Regions from separate parts of the Homo sapiens genome. Here region 2 is reported to be linked to region 1. The links are microRNA targets in miRTarBase. Many come from high-throughput screens and were not tested one by one. Region 1 holds a microRNA gene; the other region holds the end of a gene's coding sequence.

Region 1 (3,272 bases):
GTAGCTCAGATCTACCCTGCATCCCTAGGACGTCGGGGTCCCTTCCCACGCCACACAGCAGCTGATGCTGCTCTGGCACTCAAGCTTGTGCTTCATTTCCATTTGTAATCTAGGGAAGGCCCTTGCCCCTGTGCTCTCTTCGCAGGAATTCTGAAATGAGCAAGGCCAAATGCCCTCTTCCACAGGCCTTCTAGCCAACCCGTCTAAAGCACCTCCCTGCTGTGCTTCTGCATCCCTGCACCTGCCTCTTCTGCTCCCGTGGTGGCAGGATGGGGAGCAAAACCGAAAAACATCTGGGAAAGAACGCAAAGGAAGACAAAAAGCAAGCAGGACCCTTACCACAGGAAATAAGCAGCTGAAATGAAGGGGGAAACCAGGAGCATTGATCGAGAGCATGGGGAATGGTCTAGTGCCCCAAACAAAAAGTGTTAGGTGCCCACTGGCTTCAGCAACATGCAGGTACTGGGGGACCTTGAAATGATGCCGTTTCGGTGGAGTGGAGATGAGGAAGTCAGCCAGCCTGCAGTGGCTTCGGGAACAAGTCGAGGCAAGAAAGGAAGACAGTGGATGTAGACACTGCTTTCAAGAAATTTGACTGTGAAGGGAAGGAAAGATATGAGATATGGAATGCAGGTGGCAAATGCAGCATCCAGTATTTTGGCTTTTTGGTTGGGGCAAAGGTAAATTCAACACTGATGAGAGCCAGCCAGTAGTGAGGGGAAGGCTAGCAATTCAGACAGCGTCTTTTCTGCAGGAGGGAGGTAGGGTTTTCTGCTAAGAGAGTAAGCAGCAGGGGCAGGAGGATCAAAGGACCCGGGTACCAAGAAGTTTGGAAAGAGCTTCCATGCTTAATGCAGGAAAAGCGGAATGAAGACATACAAGAATTACCAAGGAGTGCTGGATGCGCAGACGGCCTCAGCCAGCACGAATTGACTGGGGCAGTGACCTGGAAGGAGATGGGTGCACCTGTGTGCTTCCCAGCAAATCCCGACTTCAGGGTCCGGTCACAGAAGTGGTAAACCGTCCATGGTGTGGATGACTTCGACCACCTACCACATTTGTCAGTTCTCACCACACCGAGCACAGGAGCTCGAGTAAACACGCTAGCTGGAATGTAAGCTCCAGGAAGGCAGGACGGTGCTGCCCACCATGACACAGCTGAAGGGTCCTTAGAAATCACCTAGTCAAACCACTCCATTGACAAGGAAACCCCCAGTTTGGAGAAGGAGGCCGGAGTCAAAGGCAGACCTCCTGAGCTCCACTCCCAGACCTTTCGCCAGCACGGGGTGACCTCCAACTCCCTCAGAGAACACAGCCCTCCCCCTTTGGCTTCCAGCTGGAGCGTGAATTCCCGAAGGACAGCTTCACTAGATGCCCAGATTTAGGAAAACTGTAAAGCAGAAATATCATTCCATTTTTAAAGCAACACAACCTCCCCACGTGATAGCTATTAGTAAATAGCTCACAGCTGCGAGGAGGGGCTCCAAAGGACACAACACCCTGTGCCATGGGGTTTCCACGAAGATACATTCCTAGGTGTGGGCACGGTACTCCTCCCCTCCCTGCGGCAACGCGACGGGATGGCACCGGCGCGCTCTGGGGTTCGGAACGAGGCCAGCAGGGGGCGGTCTACACCACTGAGTGTTTTCCCAGCTCGGTTTGTTGTTTGGAAGGAAATTCACGTGTGATCAATCACACCTTAAATATCTTCTGTAGCTATAAATATCAAACATATGTTTTCTAAATGGTTTACACTCCTTATCTCCCCTTTTATAAGTTCAATAGTAGAGAGGTCGTGGTGAGGGACAGAGAAGGAACACCAGACCTGGGTCCGCTGAAGAAACAAGCCCAACAGGAAACTGCCAGGCGAGACCGCTCAGTTGCCTCCCAAACACAGATGGAAGACAGGATTTTCTGGAATCACAGCAAAAGAAAAAAAAAAGCCTCAGCTTTGAACATCTCGACAGCAAATTCAATGTCTAGTCTTTATTATTGAGCAAGTTCCCTAAAACTTCAAAGAGGTAAGCACATCAAAAAAGTACTAAGTATGAAACCCTGGGAATATAAACACATAAGAGACATCCTCCTGTCTTTGAGGAACTGATAACAAAGGGGAAAGAAGATACTATCTCAGGAGTGCTCTGAGCGTGGTTAAGGGCGTGATTCATCCCTATTTAATCAATATAGCTAGGGAAGAAGATTCCAACTAAGCATGAAAGAATAGATGGGACTCCAACCAGATTGTGGAGCACTGGAAACCAAGATAGTACATGTAGCCATTTTTAAGTTTGAATAGCAATTATCTTTCTAGTACGTAATCAGGGTGCAAAGCTTATACCCCTCATAAAAGAGTTTACTGAAGTTCAGCTACAACTTCCAGGTCAACACTTCTCCCCAACCAACCCACCTTTTACTTTGTCCCTCCCCCAAGGGGCTCAGGCCCACTACTGGGGGTAACTCAGCAGGACATAAGCCAAAATTAGGCCATCAGTATCGTGCTTTGGAACGGATTTCATTCTCGATTTTTGAATCCCTTGAATCTCTGTGGTATTGTTAGGAAGGATGGTGTCCTTTATATAGCTTTCCATAAAAAGTGTCTGATTTGTCTGGATGTCCAGCACATTTTAACAAACTCAAGCCTCTAGACCTGGGAGCTGGACCATTGCTTCTACAACAAAGGCAAGTCAGACACAGGGATGGAGCCAGTTCCTCTGGTCTCATGTGTGTGGGGGCCTTCCTGTGCCAATGAATCTACCTCTACCACTCACCCCACCCTAGCTGCATCCCAATCAACAGACAGAGCTTGGTGTGGTGGCACCACCTGTAGGCCCAACTACTCGGGAGGCTGAGGTGCGAGGATCACTTGAGTGCAGGAGTTGGAGGCTAAAATGAGCTATGATCATGCCCCCCCTGCACTCTAGCCTGGGCAACATGGAAAGACCCCATCTCTAAAAAATAGATACAATACAAAACAGACACCAAAAAAGAAGCACCAGAATTTACTTTGTTCTAAGGGATATAGGCTTTGTCACTTCAACAGTCAGGTCATGGGAGTTCTCAGAAAGTGTTTTGACATTTGCTCCCTAGCAGAGGAAAGTCATTTGTGAAACTATTTTTAAACAGCAAAACTAAAAAGGTGGGGTGCCATCTCAGATGCTCATTAGACATTGAGTCCAGAGCTGCTTTGGGGGGTAAGACAGAGACACTGTGCTCTAAATACCAGCACAAGCATGAAGGACAGCGACCACAATCTGTGCAGCCAGTCCACTTCT
Region 2 (3,272 bases), not on the chromosome of region 1:
TCTCTCATCTAATTTTTAAGAAGTCTGGGTAAAACACGTTTTTCTACAATCACTGTTATAACTAATGCCGATCTATTTTCTGAGTACTAGAGTACAACCAAAAAATGGCCTGCATTTATTACTCAAATTATACTTGTAATTTTCACCTGCACACAATTTTATATTTGTAAATGTAGACTCATCACTTAAAACTCAGAGAAGCAAAATTTGACATTGAGGGGAAAGTAATTTGTTCACTTATAGCTACTTTTAAAGTTTAGAAACATAAAATTATGTTAAAAGATGAGTTCTATTCACAATTCTAAGTTTACATGTCAAAGTTAACATGCCCAAATAATACTTTCCTGTAATGGAATGACAACCCAAAAAATACACTCAAAATAATAAACACAAAATTCAAAAAGTAACACAAAATAATCCTACCCCAGCAGTTGTTCCCTAATCTACAAAGTCAGACCAAAGGATTTCTCAACTTTCTTTCAATTCTGACTTTTTTTAATAGATAATGGAATCAAACACTAGTCACCTTTAGCTTTATATTACCTAAGAAGTCACTTATTTTTTAACCTCTCAGTAAAGATACTGAGAGTTATTTAAAAGGTATCAGCTAAGATATTATCTCCTGATCCAACAATCCCACTTCTGGCTATTTATCCAGAAGATTTGAAATCCGTATGTCAAAGAGAAGTCTGCACTCTATGTTCATTGCAGACAAGTCACAATAACCAAGTGATTCGATCAACCTAAGTGTCCATCCATGGATGAATGGATAAAGAAAATGTGGCATATATATACAAAAAAATACTATTCAGCCTTTAAAAAGGAAGAAATTGTGTCATTTGCAACAATATGGATGATCGTGGAGGACATTATGGTAAGTGAAATAAGCCAAGCACAGAAAGACAAATACCACATGATCTCACTTATTTGTGTAATCTAAAACAATTAAACTCACAGAAGTAGAGAGAAGAATGATGGTTGCTAGAGGCCGGGGATGTGGGAATAGGGAGATGACAATCAAAAGATACAAAGCCTCAATTAGATAGAAGGAATATGTTTGACTTTTTTTAGATCTATTACACAACATGGTGAATACAGCTAATAATTAAGCACTGTATGTACATTTCAATACTGTTGAGAGTACATTTCAAATGTTTTCATCACAAAATATGTCAAATATTTGAGGTGATGGATAGATTAGCTTTATTTAATCATCCCACATTATATTCAAAAATCATAATGCCACTTCGTACCTCATAAGTATATACAACTATAATTTGATATATAATAAAAAATTTTTAAAGGTAGTCTCCTAACAATCATATGAGGATTATCCTAAAATGTCCTTTAGTAACTGTCATGGACTGAAAAGTATCCCATGAAGAGACAATGTCTACTCAGAACATGTGAATACAAACTTACTTGGAACATGGGTCTTTGTAAACATAATTAAGGGTCTCCAGACACAATCACCCTAGATCAGGGTGGGCCCTACATTCAAAGACACTGTCCTTAAAAGGTAATGAAAAGACAGAGGGAAAGGCCGTGTGAACGCAGAGGCAGAGACTGGAGTGAAGATTGCTGTCTGCAATACTTAGACAAGATATGCCCATAAGCCAAAGAACTCCAAGAATTGCAGACAGCCACAAGATATTAGGAAACAGACATAGAATGGATTCTTCCTTAGAGCCTCCAGAAGGAACCAACTCTGCTGACACTTTGATTTTAGACTTCTGGCCTCCAGACTGTGAGGAAAATTGTTGTAAGCACCCAAGTTTGTGGTCATTTGTTATGGCAGCCCTGGGAAGCTAATACAATATGTATTTCATAAAGGAAATCCCCCTTTTAAAGGATTATAATCAACACAATTTGTCTTTGGCCATCATACATTTCATATTAGGAATTAGTGAAAGAGCTTCATCATTTCTGGATTGTAAACAATAACCAACAATTTGATGCCTAGACAGACATATATGAGTCTCTACTTTATCATTTACTATCTATGCATTTCTATTTTGACTTAGAATTAAAATTATATTTACTGAAATGTTAAGGAACTTTTCAGTCAAGAATATCACCTGACCATTTGTAAATATTTGCTAACACATTGTTATTAGGTTGGTACAAAAGTAATTGTGGTTTTGCCATTACTTTCAATGGCAAAAACCACAATTACTTTTGCACTAACCTAATAGTTCTCTCTGAAGAGAATAAATTAGTTCTAGTAATATGAAGCATACCCAGTTTTAATAAACTTATACATACAAAACATTCCCAAGCTTTGTGAGGGGCCAACATTACGAGAGCGATATGAGATATCTGAAAACAATTTTATTTTCCCATTATTCAGGCTTTTGAAGCAGGTCTTAAGCTTTCCCAGTTCTTTGCCACTTAATTTCTTACATATGTTTAAAATATATATTAAAAAAACTAATGTAATTTGAGGACCACCACTGCACCTAAAAGAAATTCCATGTTTTCCACCTATTCAGTTGTTCTTTGTAGAAATGGTCTAATTATTAAGTCCATTTTTACAGTTCAAAATATCACTGATATTACCACATAAACCTTTGAATGTCCTGACTATTTGGCCACTGAAAAGTCTTGTTCAGAAAGATGTAAAAAGTTATGAAATTAACAATTGCATAGCAACTCAGTTCACAAACAAGTCTGGATGTGGGAGGCAGAGTTATGTTAAGCCTATAAATGACATAAGGTAAAATGAAGTAACGAAATTCCAGCAGTTTCTGAGGAACTATAACAATGAACAAGCATATGAAAAACATTAAATTCCAAAAAATTGGCTTTGATTTCAATGAGTCAGCTATACTCCAACCAGCAAATATATAGGCTGGAACTAACAAATATTTCAGAATTGCATATCTTTGAAAAACTCTTTTCCACACATAGAAAGTATAATGTCTATTGTCTGCTAGCAAGTATTTATGAGCATAAGTGAATTTCCAAACTAAAAACACAGAGACTAAGGTAACCACCAAAAACAGAATTCCATGTTTCCAAACTAAGGAAAGAAAAGTCTTAATTTTGCTAGGAGACAGGAGATGAGGAAAAGAAAAAAAGAGAGTAAATGAAAAAAAGTAGAATAGTTGAGGAAAATGAAGACAGGCTTCATGACTACTCCGATCGCCAATAACAATTCCACCATTAACTACTACAAAAGCACAAAACAGAAATCCCAGAAGGATGTAGGGCCAAGTCAAACAGAAAAGCATACTCAAGTTTTTAAAGGACATGGAATAAGCCAAAAGAAA

Evidence for each region. The annotated mature microRNA hsa-miR-7153-5p reads UGAGAACUGACAAAUGUGGUAGG and lies in region 1 at 1,049-1,071, opposite strand. An mRNA with a match to its seed (bases 2 to 7 or 8) in the 3' UTR can be bound and repressed. Matches are read on the target gene's strand: a 7mer-m8 pairs with bases 2 to 8, a 7mer-A1 pairs with bases 2 to 7 and ends in A, and an 8mer does both.
Region 2: the mRNA of ALG10B is a reported target of hsa-miR-7153-5p. The part of its 3' UTR that is shown has no 7-base or 8-base seed match.

Annotation. Positions count from the first base shown.
Region 1 is chr18:11,653,871-11,657,142 of GRCh38, forward strand. It overlaps MIR7153 (microRNA 7153), which reads right to left and starts at 1,071; the gene lies at 1,015-1,071.
Region 2 is chr12:38,320,497-38,323,768 of GRCh38, reverse strand. It overlaps ALG10B (ALG10 alpha-1,2-glucosyltransferase B), which reads right to left. Exons shown (of 3, transcript NM_001013620.4): 3 at 1-3,272. The coding sequence ends at 2,556. Among named protein-coding and RNA genes, the nearest start is that of ALG10B, 5.4 kb to the right of the region's middle.